Homo sapiens: one gene and its partner. The protein of the gene in region 2 binds, or shares a complex with, the protein of the main gene of each other region. Each region holds a gene or a part of one and is shown on either strand. Other genes may lie near its edges. The genes, in order: RAB11A and MYO5B.

Evidence for each region.
Region 1: the proteins of MYO5B (region 2) and RAB11A are in contact, whole or in part, in a crystal structure (PDB 4LX0), measured with the Homo sapiens proteins. Residues at the interface, in NP_001073936.1 of Homo sapiens: Ile1627, Gln1628, Gly1629, Leu1630, Trp1706, Met1710, Arg1713, Tyr1714, Ser1717, Gln1718, Glu1721, Arg1724, Gln1745, Leu1747, Gln1748, Leu1749, Lys1750, Lys1751, Glu1755, Ala1759, Leu1763, Tyr1779, Glu1786; in NP_004654.1 of Homo sapiens: Leu11, Lys13, Arg33, Glu35, Ile44, Gly45, Val46, Glu47, Phe48, Ala49, Thr50, Gln63, Trp65, Glu71, Arg72, Tyr73, Arg74, Ala75, Ile76, Thr77, Ala79, Tyr80, Arg82, Gly83.

Annotation. Positions count from the first base shown.
Region 1 is NC_000015.10:65,886,491-65,892,489, forward strand, and holds the end of RAB11A (ras-related protein Rab-11A), read left to right. Parts: intron 1-1,210; coding exon 1,211-1,350; 3' UTR 1,351-5,499; downstream 5,500-5,999. UniProt on the Homo sapiens protein: The small GTPases Rab are key regulators of intracellular membrane trafficking, from the formation of transport vesicles to their fusion with membranes.
Region 2 is NC_000018.10:50,181,414-50,192,493, forward strand, and holds part of MYO5B (unconventional myosin-Vb), read right to left. Parts: intron 1-11,080. UniProt on the Homo sapiens protein: May be involved in vesicular trafficking via its association with the CART complex. The CART complex is necessary for efficient transferrin receptor recycling but not for EGFR degradation.

The DNA of each region.
Region 1 (5,999 bases), on a different chromosome or scaffold from region 2:
AGGCTAATTGTGTTAATTTGACACATTTTTAGAATTATCTTGCTTTTTGAGAGTAGTGTTTTTGGAGGGACAACTGGGAGAGTAAACAAAAATAAGGTACATTCTCTGTTCTTAAGGACTTTATAATCTAGTCACAGGGAACAACTTTTAGGCAGTGCAGTATAAGACCAAACGTGTTACATACAGATACTTATTGTGGAGGAATTTAGTGACATTCATGCGGTTATTTATTTATCACAACACATGTTATATGTTGCAGTACAGCAGTAAGACAGACACAGTTTTGATCCTTACAGAGTTTAACACTTAGTAAAAGAGGCAGACACTAAATTATTTTTGATAAGTGTCATGAAATAAAAATAGAGTTTACATATAACATCTTAAGTTGCCTATTTTGTATCATTCTTTAATTACAATTTAAGTTTTGTTCAGGAGGTCACTGATAAACACATTATCTTTTTTTCCCTTCCAAGAATCGTTTGGGATTTTAGCATGTTTGTTAAGATGTACTCTGCCGAATGCGTCTGATAGTGCAAATTTATTTATTTTTTGTGTGGTACAATGTCATTGTGTGTAGGCAATTTTTGTTTGTTTGTTTGTTTTTTGGGGTAAAGGTAGACTGAAAATACTCTTATGGTTTACTTTGAATCTAAGTCCATAAACAATGTAATGCTATTGGCTTACCTCTTTTTTTTTTTTTTGAGACCGAGTCTTGCTCTGTTGTCTAGGCTGGAGTGCAGTGGCACGATCTCATCTCACGACAACCTCCGCCTCCCGGGTTCAAGTGATTCTCCTGCCTCAGCCTCCCGAGTAGCTGGGATTACAGGCACCCACCATCATGCTTGGCTAATTTTTGTATTTTTGTAGAGACAGGGTTTCACCATGTTGGTCAGGCTGGTCTTGAACTCCTGACCTCAGGTGATCTGCCTGGCCTGGTTTACCTCTTTAAACAAAGATTTATTTGACTGGTGAACCTTTCCCTCTGACATGGAAAAACCTTTGTTTCTTTTCTTACCCAAAGGGCAATTGTTAAAATAAAGGGTTGAATCTAATCAGTGGCTGTTTGAAAATAAAACTTTAAATTTATGTATTCTCTGTTCAGTTTCCTTAGGGACTTTGATGCAAATATATCTCCTACCTTTATGTATCTTTTATCCTAACTATGATAGGTTTATTCACACTAAGTATTGTGGTTTCTTTTTTCCTTCAGAGATTTACCGCATTGTTTCTCAGAAGCAAATGTCAGACAGACGCGAAAATGACATGTCTCCAAGCAACAATGTGGTTCCTATTCATGTTCCACCAACCACTGAAAACAAGCCAAAGGTGCAGTGCTGTCAGAACATCTAAGGCATTTCTCTTCTCCCCTAGAAGGCTGTGTATAGTCCATTTCCCAGGTCTGAGATTTAAATATATTTGTAATTCTTGTGTCACTTTTGTGTTTTATTACTTCATACTTATGAATTTTTCCATGTCCTAAGTCTTTTGATTTTAGCTTTATAAAATCATCCACTTGTCCCGAATGACTGCAGCTTTTTTTCATGCTATGGCTTCACTAGCCTTAGTTTAATAAACTGAATGTTTGGATTCCTCAGTTATTGTTTACTTTTCATCATGGAAGCCTGTCACTGTATGTAGGACATAATAGAACTTGATCACTTGAAGCTCAGACCTATTGGTCTTGATCAAATCAAACTAAGAAGACCTTAGAAATAAGCTACCATTTTGCCACAGAGCAGCTTATAGGTAATACACTCTTCTCTCAGTGCAGTGTACATTTCCACAAATCTAAGAATTGCCCTATAAACATAGCAGGATTTTGAGAGCTTGAAAATTTTCCATTATTCTGGACATGAATTTCTAAAATGCCTTAATAGGTTTATGTAGTTGAGTAAATTTTGTTTTTTAATTTTTGTAAGCATCAAAGTTGATTAGAGAGGGGGGCACTTTTTCTGGAGAATTCTCTTAGTAAACACAAAAGATTGTTACGGTTTCATTAGTAGTATGGTTGTGGGGCCATAAGTTAAACAGTGCTGCCTGGTAGGCTGGGAACTGAAGAGACTTGTGGTATTCCATCTCGGGTGCCTCTGTTGGCAATGATCAGGCAGCCCAAAAGATTTAAATGATCTATAATAATTTCCAAGCGGTAGATTATGTGGCATTTTATTGCTCAGGCAATAATTGGTTTAATGCTGGTAGTGTCAAATTTTGAAGTGTTAATTTTGTCTTAGAACCTTCCAGTAAGTGAAATACAACCTAGTTTTATCACCATATCCACCAGCAGGCATGGATAATTATTTTAACAATGCTAATATTTGAGTTTTGCAGTATATTATAGAATATAGTCCAGTTAAATCTTTGGTTTCAGTATGTCTGAAGAGTACAGTGAGAGGTTAATTTCTGCTCAAGTGGTACCACTTAAAGGCATGTATTCTTTTAGTATGTAAAATGAAATAGTACCTTGAGTTTAAATAGAATGCATTTAGGCATTGTAGAGATCTGAAATAGTTTTCTTCCACTACATTGTTGAAATCAATGAAGCAATTAGTTTCTCATTCAGAAATGTGCACACTAATATTTAGTTTTGCTTTCTCGTGGATAATATTAAGCACTTACTCTGCAGTTTCCTGGAAGTTGTGTCAACTGCAGTGATACTATTCAGGATGGTGGGAAATCCCCAAAAATATGTATGTGTGGGCTTGCTTAGATTACTATATTTCATAGTTAATCTTTTGTCTCTTGCGGTGCTCATGATGTGTGGGGCACACGGAAGGCATTGCTGTAGTCAGTCATTTTGGTTTTCTTCTATAGCCATTTTATTATTTTAGTGTATTAGTTATGAAGATAATATTATCTATTTGTAAATTGCTACTTTGTATTTTATGCATGCTCTGTAATTTGATTTTTTTTTAGTTATTGATTTGGATTATATTCACATTCTAATAAACAGTTATAGGGGGATTATTTCTTATGCTGTCAGATTACATTTTTCCTTTGAGTGCTTTGGGTGCAGCCGTGGAATCCTGATGTAAAAGCATAGGTTCTTGCATTACTGAGTAAACATTGAATTGGGAGCATCAGTGTGTGAATTCAGCTTTGATTTTAGAACTGCAGTTCAATTATGCTTTCCTTGGAAAAAGTATGTCCAAAAACATTAGGAAAGTAGTGTGTATTTTCATATATAACAGTGTCACCAGACCCAGGAAAAGAAACCATCTCTATTTTATTGAAAGTTGGTGGTAGATTTTTTACAAAGTAAGGAGAAAAGAGAAAAACTAAATAGTGAATTGAAAATGAATAAAGTAAACTTAGAATTTTTACCCAAGTGTAGACTTAAATGTTGCTTTGAGTATGGCTGGATCTTGGGAGAATTCCAGGAAATATTAGGTATTAGAAAATGACTTTGATTGCATTTCAGCAGGTGTCTTTATTCTGAGTAGTATCTTAGGAGACAAACTGTCTCAAGCAAGAAACAATAAATTTTTAAATATTATGACAGTTCAGGGCTTAAGGCAGTTTAGAAGTATTTTGCTACTTGACCTTGATTTTCAGTTATTTTAACTTTGAATTTTTTTTTTTTTTTTTGAGACGGAGTCTTGCTCTGTTGCCCAGGCTGGAGTACAATGGCACCATCTCAGCTCACTGCAAGCTCCACCTCCAGGGTTCATGCCATTCTCCTGCCTCAGCCTCCCGAGTAGCTGGGATTATAGGCGCCAGCCACCACGACTGGCTAATTTTTTGTATTTTTAGTAGAGACGGGGTTTCACCATGTTAGCCAGGGTGGTCTCGATCTCCTGACCTGGTGATACACCCACCTCGGCCTCCCAAAGTGCTGGGATTAAAGGCGTGAGCCACCGTGCCTGGCCTTGAATTTTTTTTTAACCTGTTATATAGTCTCCTGAATAGTTAGCCATGGTGCCTTGATTTAATCTTATGTCATTGTTCTCAAATGCCATGATTTCTCTTTAATAGTAGTTGTCATTATGTAAGGGTAAGTTATTGCCCATTTAATTGTAATTATAAGAAGAGGTGCCAGCTAGTGACCTTACATCAGTGATCTTTTAAGTTCTGAAGGGTTCTGCAGAAAAGTTACACTTCTTGAGTTTGGGTTGCCCATCAGAGCTGGTCACATTTCTTTGATCATTGAAAAAATGAATATCTTAATTTTTGTCTTTGCTGACTGGTATTTATAAAATACAAATGCTTTTAGTGGGTTGAGCTGTTGTGATAATCTCTTCCATCTACCTTAGAGAAGAAGCTGTACTATTTAGACAGTTTTGGCCAACACTAGAAGCAAAAGAATTCAAAGGCTGGGTGGATATTTAAGAACTTATTCTAACCTGTCAGGTTTCAATTTGTGGGGCTTGGTTTAACAGAGGAAAAAAATATAAATTGATTTTCTGATGTCTCACAAATATCACATACCTGGAAAAAAATTAAAACAAAAAATGAATTTTGTAAAAGGTTATGTATGACTTCCATTTGCTCTGTAAAAAAATGAACAAAGATTGTGAAAGGATCCTCTTCCACCACATCATTTAATGGGTTAGCGGAACAGATAGGGAGCTATGACACTAGCACCAAAGAGAGATTTTTCTTCTGGTTGGGTGGTGCTGGTGCCACGCCCCTTTCTGGGATTTGACAAGTCTTTCCCACTCACCTATACAATATGCCAAATCAACTGGAGTTGTCATTCTAATGTTTTAAAGAATGATTGGGTTCCCCCAAACTGTAGGAGGTCGATGGTAACAATAAAGTGATACAAAATGCTTATGTCATTATAATTTATGTAAGGGAGACCATTAGGCTGAGAATCAATATGATTGAGGTTATCTATTCTCCTGAAAAGTGAATTGGAGAATAAAGAAAGAATATTTGAAAGGATGTTGTGTACTAGGCAATATACTAGCATGTATTAGAAAATACGGTAAACTGTGGGTTAGAAGAGTGAAAGTAGCTGGTATGATAGAGCACTGGACTGAGTAACGAAGAGATTCTAGTCATGGCTCTTGTGGTCATTTCATTTTTGAGCCTCACATTCTTCCAATTAATGAGGGTACCAGATTAAATAAACTCTGGGGATTCATCCCAATTCGAACTCTGTAATTCTCTGAATGAACTCTCTCTTCAATTAAAGCCAAATTATTAACATTTTAACTCAAGTTTAAATTTAATAGAGAAGTCAAAATGAGGTATGCACTTTGTGGAATGTTTTTGGTCTTATCACAATAACCTGATTAAAATGGTGCCTTTATTTCCATGTTTACTCCTTTAAATAAGATGAAAGCTTTCAGAACATTTATTTGCAAAATGACTGTCAATATCAACAATATGCATCAAAGTACCATATATGCTAAGGGAGAGGAGCACTTGATGGGCTGCTATGTTAACTGTAAATTGAGAACTGCTTGTTTTATGGCTTTTGCTGTTAAAAAAAAACTGCTGGCTTTTAATATGTACTTTAAAATATACTCATGTCTGGGAGAGAACTTTTAAAAACATTTTGTGTTTAATTTTTAAAAAATTATTTCTTTAATAGGAATCTACAAGAAGGTAGATCAGTCCACAGGCTAGCTATCCAGTAGAACCAGTGATTAAATCCAAGTGTACAGGTTTATGTGTGCATGTACATGATACACATGGTATTTTGGGGTTGTTGATCTAGTGATCTAATTATTAATAGTCAAAACATTATTTAAATTCAATTCTTTGACATTTATTAATTATAGGATAGTTCCTGACACGGGTGTGAGCACAAAATGTTATGTATATTGGCTAACTATGTTACCAGTACCAGTGATGGTAGTGAGAATTAGCAGCCAACAGGATTCCTTTACTATGTTTGAGTCAGTGGAACTTAACCTTGCTCCAAACCACAAAATCTCAGACCTTTTTAACTCTCATCCCAATGAATAATGTACTGTTTTTAGCACCTGTCCCCCTGTTGACAACCTCTAATCTCTCAGCATACCATTTTCTCAGGTATTTCTAGGGAAGTG
Region 2 (11,080 bases):
GCATCCATACCTGGAAGCAACACACAGTCCACAATAGCAAGATAGTCAGTGAGTCCTCACCTTACTCAACCAGCTTAGTTGTGTGAATAACTTAACTATTTCTAGAACAGAAAGCCTATCTTCCAGACAAAGATATTGTCACCATAGGGAGGACTCAAAAGCACACACCATCAGGTTTGAAGCCAGTTTCATAAGATGTATTGATGAGCTACAGCATCTGCAGCCCTCTGCCCAAGTGACCACCCCAAAGGAAACAGAACACCTTCAGACGGTGCAGGATGTAGCATGCTGGTCATAAAAATCCATCACATTTTATGGGCATTGCCATCATTTTGGTGCCTGCAGCTTGTTTCATAGTCACACACATACACACAGTAAAATGGCAATTAAAAGGGCAAGCAGCTTGAGAGCAAAGAAACATTAGTTTCTGGCTGAGGAGACATTCATTTTCCTTACTTTACAAATAAATATTATCCCTCATTACGGAATTCAGGCAAATTGAAAATGTGATTAAATCTGATGATGGGATAAGATAAGGCAATTTATCTCCCTTTAACATACTAATACCTCCTTAATGCTTATTCATACGACAAATGAACCGTTGGATTAGAAGAACTCAAGGTCAAAAGCCTACTTTTGCCAGGGTGGGCTCTTTCTCCCAGCCTCATGTGCTGGCTGTAACACATCCCAGTGGTGAGACAGTGCTCCAAACCTTTGTTGCCTGCGTGATGAATACGAAAGATGGTCTGAACCTTCAGGCAAAAACTATGAGTACTGTTATCTTTTCTAGGTGAGAGAAGAAAACAACTCGATCTAGTTTTTCTTCCTGGATTCACTGTTTTCTGTTCTGAAAGCCACTGGCTTTGCTACATCTAACAGGACAGGTGGATATCCATACATGCCCCCACCTCATCATGCAAATACCCATGGGTCTTCATAAGACTGGTTTTGGGGGTGTTTGTTTTCTTCCTTTGGCCAGCTTGGTGGAGAAAGATTGTTAATAAAACCTTTTGAGTTAATTGGGGGAAAAATAGGAGACTGTGCTCTTAACAAATGATAACCTTGAGAAGGTAAGGGCAAAAATATGTGCCCAAAATAACGTGTAAAATTAGGATATTCAAACACAAGGCAGTTAAATTAACTCTCACATCCATGAATGTTACTTTGCTGATATTCTACATTCACACCTTGTGCTAAGCCTTTGAGCACTGTCATAAAAAAGAAAAACATTTAATTATCTCCTGACAGGGGCTCCACATTCCATAGACTTTGGCAAGTGCCAGAGGAAACAGATGGGCTTTCTACTGGTTATGCCAAGCCAAAAGCCTTTCCAAAATCACAGAAGGTAATGTTACAGTCAAGGAAGGTGGCTCCTTGGTGAGGAGAGGACTTTCCTCAAAGAGCCATGCCTAGAACCAGGCTGTGGGGGGTTGGGGGGTTGTAGGTAAACTTTAAACCAATTCAATGATATTTGTTGAGTTCCTACAGCATGCAAAACCCCACCCTGGGAACTGTGAGGGATGTGAGGCTAAGATTCTACCTACAACTTCAATGACAGCAATTTTGCAAATATACACACTCAACCACCAATTGCGTACCCAAAACAAAGAGTAATGAAACAGTGAATCTAAAAACTACCTATGACCTCAAAGCTTTTGATTTGGCATTGCATCTTTTAATTTGGCATTATAACTCATCCTATTTTCAGCAGAACCACCTTTTTTGGATAATTGATGATGCACGGTAATAAAATGAATACCTGTGAACTCACTACCCAAATTAGACTGTTAATAGTACAGTTTCCCATGCTGCTCCCCTGCCACTCCCACCTCCCAGTAATTATTCTAGACTGTTTTCTTTTCCTTCATTCCCTGGTGTTTCCTCAATTTTATCATATATATATATATATATATATATATATATATCTCCTTCAATACTATTCATTTTGTTTCAGAAATTCTAAGAATGGTATTATTCTGTATGTATTCCTCTCTAAAGCACATTAAATGATGATACCTAAGCTGGGCCTTTGACTAAACAAGAAGATGAGGAAAGGCTTCCAGGAGTCTCAGGTCATGGCCCAGAAAGAAAGCAAAATGCCTATTAAAGTGTCAAGCATGGTAGGAAGGAGGCAGCTTTTCACTGGAGGATGTTAAGTGAGAGATGGAGCCAGGAAAAGTGGACCAAGGCCCTGAGAATGAAAGGATGGTTAGTTTTAGATCAGAAATACCCAATTTTAAGCTCCTTGAATTTCAGGTATGCTGTGGTTTAGATATGAATCATTTGTCCTCAAAGCTCATGTTGAAATTTGATCCCCAATGTGGCGGGGGTGGGAGGCGGGGCCTAGTGGGATGTGTTTGGGTTATAGGGGCGGATCCCTCATGAATGGTATGGTGCTGTTCTCATGGTAGTGAGTTCTCACTATAGTGAGACTGGATTCGTTCTCCTGGGAATGGATTCATTCCCACGACAGTGAGTTGTTATGACAGGATGTCCCTCAGATTTTGTCTTTTTGCACATGTCTGCTTCTGCTTTGACATTCTCCACCATGTTATGACATCAGGACAGCCTTGCCAGAAGCCAGGGCAATGCCCTTGAACTTCCCAGCCTACAGAACTGTGAGCTAAATAAACCTTTTTAAAATAAATTACCTAGTCTCGGGTATTCTGTTGCAGCAACACAAAATGGACTAAGACAGTGTACTTTGTTACACTTTGCCTTTTTGAAGATGTGGATCTCGTTTGGGACTACATGGCCTAAGGAAAACCAAAAGCAGGGGTTCTGCCTACATTTGGGACAGAATTTTAAGAAGCACCAGGATGCACGTGGGGCTGGGTGTGGTAGTGGTGGCAGTGGCAAAAGAACACAAGCAGGATCAGACCACCTGCCGTTCTTTCTGCACATGGACTCGATCCTTCTCTGATCTTGGTGGGTTTTCTGTTGCTGGGGCAGGGAGAGTTGCAGGGCAGTGCTAGGCAGAAAGGACCCTCTATATTAGGGCCCCTTATATCCAAATGATGTTCTGACTCACCATAAATGGGACAGATAACCTCATGGAAGGCAGTAGAACACAGTGGTCAGAAGCTGGGCCCTGAAGCCAGGCAGCTTTGGGAAAGTCACATAAGCCTGTGTTATTGTTAAATGAGCTAACATGTAGTGCTGAGAAGTGATTTGGCACAAAAGCACTCCATAACCAGTAGTTGTCCAACTAGAGGGTTCAAAATACATAAGCTCAGAACAAATGAAGGGGAAAATACATGCCAAGGTGCTTTATTCTTTAAATGTATATATTGTATCCTGAATATTCTGGTTTCCATGTTTTCCTATCTCAAAATATAGAGTGGACTGGGTGCTGTGACTCATGCCTATAATCCCAGCACTTTGGGAGGCTGAGGTGGGAGGATCACTTGAGGCCAGGAGTTCAAGACCAGCATGAGCAACATGGTGAGACCCTATCTCTACACACACACACACACACACAGAAAAAAATATATATATATATATTATTTTTAAGTTAGCTGGGCATGGTGTCGCATGCCTGTTCCCAGCTACTTGGGAGGCTGAGGTGGGAGGATTGCTTGAGCCTAGGAGATTGAGGCTGTAGTGAGCCATGATTGCACCACCACACACACTCCAGCCTGGGTGACAGAATGAGACCCTGTCTCAAAAAAATAAAAAATATAGAGTAGTCATTTAAATGAGCAAAAACAGTTATAAATAATGCCAGTTAATACAAACAAGAAATATAAGGAAAACAACACATTGTTCCCAGTGATCAATAATGTAGAGCCTACCAAGCATGTGAACAGAGGCTCAACCCTCCAATGAAAGTCAACTTTAAAACATGTGTAAAACATTTAGTATGAATAAGAATTTAAAAAAAAAAAAAGAGAGAGAGAGAGAAAGAACAATGACCCGAACTTAGAGTGGCGAAGAAACAGACTGGTTCTCTTGTGGTGGCTATTGGCCATATCAATGAAGACTATAAATGTGCATGCCAGCAATTCCAGCTTTAGGAATTTATTCTGAGAAAATAAATGAGGTTACAAGAACAATCTTTCACAGTATCAAAAGATTAACAATTTATTAGTATGTTCAAAAAAGCTAGAAGATAGGATCTTGAATGTTTCTAATGCAAAGAAATGATAAATGTTTGAGGTGGTGGATAACCTAATTGCCCGATTTAATCATTATACATTGTATACGTGTATTAAAAAAATCACTTGAACCCCATAAATTTGTGCAATTATTACTGTCAACAAAAAACAAAAGGAAAATAATTGGAACCAACCTAAATGCTCATCAGCATGGGAATGGTTAAACACATTACAGTATATGGCATCAGATCTTGGCAATTTAAAAAATGTATATTTTTAAGAAAAAATTACAGTACATCCATATGCTGCCTTGTGCAGCCATTAAAAATGGCAAAATTGCCTTTGTAGGCTACAGGAAAAGATAGCCATAGATTAAGATTTAGAGTAATAGACATGGCATGATCCCATTTGTTTTGAGTACATATTGTGCATAAGTCTAAAGCAGCACTGCCCAAGAGAAACAGAATGCAAACTACAACTGTGAGCCACCTGTGGTACTTTAAATTTTCTAATAACCACATTTAAAAGGTGAATTGAACAGAATATTTTAGCCAATATATAAATAACAATCACTTCAACACATAACCAATATAAGAAGTATGAAGGATATTTCGCATACATTTTTCTAAGTCTTGGAAACCCAGTGTGTACAGTACTGCACGCTTCCAGCTCATCCCAAGCTGGGCCAGCCTCATCGCAAGTGCTCAGCAGCCACATGCAGTTACCCTGTTGGACAACGGAGGTCCAGAGAACATGCCTAAGTGGTCAAGAGCAGCTGTTTCTGGGAATGAGACTACAGAGCTTTTGTCTTTCCTGCATTGTATGGATTGTTTCAATAATCATTTGTATTCACAGAGGGAAAACAGAAGCATTGTGAAAAATGCTTTTTAATTTTCCTTTAAAGCTATAATAAGAGACCAGAAAGCACAGGTTAAACTTAAAACTTCTTTCAGACTGCTCTTGCTCCTTCCCCAGGGGTGGTGGGGAGTACCATATCTTGTCTACCGCTCTCATAGTTCATGTTTGTAGCAATCCTACTTCCTCTTTCACCAAGTCTCCTTGTGATCAAGACCCCTTCAGGACAGCAGGGAAGGGTTAGGGGAAAAAACATGCTAGCCACATAATGCTGACTGCCACCCAGCATGGTGACTGGAGGGAGAAGCAAACTAATGAACAGTTGCCAACACTATGTTAGACAAGCACTTCACATGGATTAGGATTATAAGCCTCCAGTAACCTTCCCATGGTGCAGGTACCACCCCAATTCTTCAGATAAAGAAATCAAGGCTTAGAAAGTATCTGTTCCAATGTGTCGGAGCTGAGAGCGCCACAATATCCAGGGTGTCCACCTCAAGATCATAGTCACAAAGGCCTTGGAAATGCCCATACCAAGCTCCTGATCTTACCCTTATTAACACCATGCTATCAGACAACTGCATTTCTTCATTAAAGAAAAGCAAATCCCAGGCATCATTTGCAAGAACCCCAGATCCTGACATTTCTCCTCTAAGCTCTTTCGTAAATCTCCAAATGTAAATAAATGCTTTCACTTAGACAAACCATTTTCATCCCAAACCCAACATGTCAAAAATCAAGAATTATCCCTGCTCCAACCTGACTTCTGTCCACACTCAAGGTGGATATTTCAAGTTCATAGTTGACTCTTCTACTTCCCTTGCCCTTAATAAAACATTTATTGAGTTCTAGTCTCTGTAATTTCTACATAACTACAAAAAGTAGTAATGAGTACACCTAGCAACCAGATCTTCATTTCTAAATTCCATTCTTCAATAAAAGGAAACTGACAGGCATCAGCTTAACCAAGGGATCAAAGTGATCCGTCAGTAACAGGACACATTGATATCACTGTCTCCTGAGGTGATGCAGTGAGAAAGGCACAGCATTTATGATGTGTTCTTGCCCAAAAGTCACAACCTCCATGTAAGCATAAGACAGTCTGACAAACCCAAAATCATTCTACAAAATTATTGAGAAATGCTTTTTTTGGGGGGGTGGGCGGTGGGCAGACAGGGTCTCACTCTGTCACCCAGCCTGGAGTGCAGTGGCACAATCACAGCTCACTGCTACCTCAACTCCCAGGCTCAAGCAATCCTCCCACCTCGGCCTCCAGAGTAGCTAGGACCACAGGTGCATGCCATCACACCCAGCTAATTTTTTCTATTTTTTGTAGAGATGAGGTCTCGCTATGTTGTCCAGGCTAGTCTCGAACTCCTGGGTTTAAGGGATCCTCCCATCTTGGCCTCCCAAAGTGCTAGGATTACAGGTGTGAGTGACTGTGCCTGGCTTGACCAATGTTCTTCAAGTGTCAAGGTCATGAAAGACAAAAAACTGAGCAACTGTCACTAGAGGGGGGCAGGGAGCTACAACCCTAAAGGCAATGTGGAACCCTAAACAGGATCCTGGCCCAGAAAAAGAACATTAGTGAAAAAGGTGGTAAAATTCCGGTGAGCTTTATAGACCAGTTAGTAGTATTACAGAAATGTTAACCTCCTGGTTTCAATAATTGCACTATGGTTATATGACATGTTAACACTGGAGCAATCTGGAAAAATATAGAAACTGCACTATTTTTGCAATGTTTCTGTAAGTGTATATTTCAAAATAGTTAAAAATAGTGCTATAATTATCCCCATATACATCTAGCTCATACCTGTCCCTATGCTTAAACTCACTCTCCCCTGTCTCCTCCTGAGAGAACATCCTTCTTTACAGCCTCCTCATGCATTTCAAATCCTATTCATTCTTTAGGCCCCAGTCATGTCCCACTACACCTTAAAGGAAGCCTTTCCCGCAATACTGTAGCCCACCAGACCAACACTTCTACAAAATGCCTGTAACTTGTAGAGGAGTATGTGCACTCCTCTAATGACACACAGATAATCCTGTATTGTTAGTGTACTTTGTGTATTTAGCTTTTATCACCAAACACACTGAAGGCTCCTAAAAACATCTGGTATGGCCTCTGTTCTCCAGAATCTCAGCCTACTTAGATAAAGCATCACATAAAAACTATCAACAAGGCTGAGGTGGGTAGATCATGAGGTCAAGAGATTGAGACCATCCTGGCCAACATGGTAAAACCCCGTCTCTACTAAAAATACAAAAAGTAGCCGGGAGTGGTGGCACACACCTGTAGTCCCAGATACTCAGGAGGCTGAGGCCGCAGAATCACTCGAACCCAGGAGGCAGAGGTTGCAGTGAGCTGAGATCGTTCCACTGCACTCTAGACTGGTGACACAGTGAGACTCTGTCATAAAAAAAAAAAAAAAAAAAAAAAAAAAAAAAACACACACACCTATCAACAAAGGAGGGCAGGGCAAGAGCCTGCTCAATGATTACAGGTTACAGGCCATTGGAATATGCCACATCCACAAGTCACAAGTACAAACTTCAAAATTCTGATGATCGCCAACATGGTGAAGCAGGATCCACTGGGCTTATAGGCCCATCTGAAAACGGGGAGCAGAGGATCAACGGAATTGGAACTAGGGATGAGAGAAGAAAAAAACCACATGCAAGACAGAGAATGAGCCTCAGAAGGAAAGTGACAGCATGACACACAACCTCCATGCTTCTTTTCAGCCTTTCCTGGGACCATAGAGGGGCCAAAGCCCTTGAGATTCTCAACATCCACTAAGCTAAGCCACCATGAGTTATGGTTAACTTGGGCTCCTAGAATCTGATCCTGAGACAAGGATTCCTGCTCAAGAGACTTGTAAGGCAGTGTTTTCCGGAAAAGACTGGTAGGGGAGTAGAGAAGGTGGACAAGAGAGGGAAGGAAGTCAAGCTAACATGTGATACTAAGGAAAGTCCCAAGCATGGTAACTTTAGTTCAACTGTACAAAGAAACTGAAAACAGTATGGGTCATACTTTAGAGCTGTTCCATTCTCAAGGTGACAAGATAGGAAACTAATGTCATTACAGTGCCATTGGTTAAGGACTGTTCCCTTTTGCAGAGTGTCAATTCCCAGGCTCCCTATGCACACAGGCAAAACAGCTTCAGGAGCTTTGACAAAGAGATGGGTGCTGGCTATTGGGAGTGAGCTAACACCAAGGCAGTATGCAGGGAAGGGAGTAAGGGGGAAACAATAGGAGCACTAACAGCATCTGCTGACACTTTTCAAGTCCTCATGTCTTTAACACTGTCACCACTTTTTGGAAAAAAGAACATCACTCAGAGCCACCAGCAAAAGAAGGAATCATCAGCCCCTCCAGCAGGGGTGACTGGGTACAGAGGAAACAGGTGGCTCTTGCTGCCTTCAGACTGACACTTGGGAGAAACTTACATTACCTGAGGTATAGGTAAGGGACTGTTAAAGGACACCTGCCCAAAAGCACAGAAGATCTATTTTTCAAATGATTGGTCCCAAATCGCGCCCTTAGTAAAGGCTCCTGGGTGCAAAGCTGCCATACATATGGTGTGTCTGCCAGTAAAGTAACCTCCCAGCAGCACTCAAAAACCCACTGCTCAGACACTACCTATCAATTAGAAGCCAAGCAGGAAAAAAGGTTATTTGAAGGCACTGGTTTCAAGGCACCAGTTTCAATTTGATGATTTCTCATTCACTCTGCTGGCTAGAATCAAAGTAGCATATTGAAAATCCAGGTATTTGAAATAGCAGTATTTAAATTTTTTGTTCCAAGTAACTCTTCTATAGATAAGAGTTGTATTATTCAGCCTGAGAAGGAGAGGTTACATTTTATGCTTTAAAATCAGACTACTATCTGCAATCATCATGATGAAATGGTATTCACCATGCTTGCACATGTGTGGGCTTCTTTCTGGATCTATGCAAAGCAAAGCCCACATTGTCTTTTCCAATGGGTTGGAAGCCAAGCACTCACACTGACCACATGCATGCCACTGTGACAACAGAGACCATCATCAGCTCCACCTTTGGAGCTGATGTGAGAGTGAATGAGACTGACTCACTTTGACATCACCCTGAAAGTGTCTGGCACTGACTGGTGCTCTTTCTCCATCCAGAAAAACCTCACTACAAAGAAAACAATTTCTCAAAGGTGAGGTGTTGGGTCTTCTGAGAACAGGAGTGTCTCTGTTCAAAGAGAAGTGCCCTTTGGCCCCCGACCTACCAAAAAAAAATCACATAACATATAAACTGCCACTTGAAGGGAACAGATCAAGAAGAGCAAGAACACATTTAATTGGATGGAGGGAAAAAGAAACTATTTTCTTAGATAACTAGAAATACACTAATTTCTTACTGAACAGTATTTAATACAAGCTAATATATATTTAAATGTTTCATATTCCAATAATAACATCTTCTAACTATCACAAAAGCAACAGGTATAATCAAAGGGCTTTAAATTTTCCATTCCCAAAAATGTATAAATGCTGTTAGCATAATGGGTAATTATTTCCATCATACATAATACATTGATGTGTGTGTCTGGCTCCAGTGTTCATCACATTAGGAAAGCCCACTAGCAAGTTAAAAATAAAAGGGAACATTGGCTATTTTGATAATACACTAAAATGAATAATCTCTAAGAAACAAAGTGAATCTGAGTAGCAGGCACGACTTCCCTGTGTAACTTATGATTCACATGCATACTGAGAAGCCAGCTTGGCAAGTGGGGAGACCATGGTTAGGCAACTACACAACTGCTTCTCATAGTAAAGCACAAGTGTGTTAATTGCCAGGAAGAATAACAACTGCTCAAAACATAAATCTAGAAGATACTGTCTTGGGTCCCAGAAAATCTCCTTAATTTCATAATCAAGACCCTAAATGATTAAGAACTGGAAACCCATTAACAGAGCAAGGTGCAGCCCAGCAGCCCTTAGGGAAGAACTCTAATATTTGTTTGGGATTAATTATGCCAACCCCTCACACCAATGAAGCTACTTTTTAAGTGTCTTATATCCAAGACCTTTCTCTGGTGACACCAGTTTTGTACATCTCCATAACCTGAGAAAAAGTACACTGAAACCCAAGTTCAGACTCCCACTACTTCATCATTCCTAAGAATTAACATGCAATGTATTCATTTCTAACTAAAAATCAAATTGAGTGTTTTCTCCTACAAGTATTGTCTTTAAAAGCAATCCGATATTAATTCTTGTTCTTCAAAACTAGGGCTCCGAAGATTAAGGGTTTATTCAATTGTCCATTAGCCTCATATGAGCACTATTTCAAGGTCATGGAAAATGCATATCATGGAAAAAAATTCACATGGATTTCAGAGTTTTCTGCACCAAAACAAACCCATAGTTTTATACTTGTTATAACAAGTATGAATGGGATCTAGAACAGGGTCTAGTTTGAGGCACTAAGAAAGTTAAGTCATCAGTTTGAAAAGAAGCCCCTATCAGGGCAACATGAATTCTACTAAAATTGAAGCAAGACCAAACATCAAATTTATGACGAAGTGTGGAGAGAAGAATTGTGAAATCATGACTTTATGAAAAGTTTATGGGGACAATCAGTTTTTAAGTGGATAATTCATTTGAAGAAGGGACGAAGCGATGTCAAAGATGAAGCCTGTACCAGCAGACCATCCACACCCATTTGAGAGAAAAAAAAAAAAAATGTAGCTTGTTTGTGCCCTAATTGAAGAGGGCTGACAATGGTAGAAACAATAGCCAACACCACAGACATCTCAATTGGTTCAGCTTACATGATTCTGACCGAAAACAAAGTTGAGCAAAGTTCGCACTTGATGGATACCAAAACTGCTGCACCCAGATCAACTGCAGACAACAGCAGAGCTTTCGATGGAAATTCTAAACAAGTGAGATCAAGACCCTGAAGCATTTCTTTGAATTGTAACGGGATGAAATGTGGCTCTCCCAGTACAATCCTGAAGACAAAGCCCAATCAAAGCAAAGACTGCCAAGAGGTGGAAGAGGTCCAGTCACAGCAAAGATGGACTGGTTCAGAGCAGAGATCACAGCAACATTTTGGGGGAATGCTCAAGCCATTTTGCTTGTTGT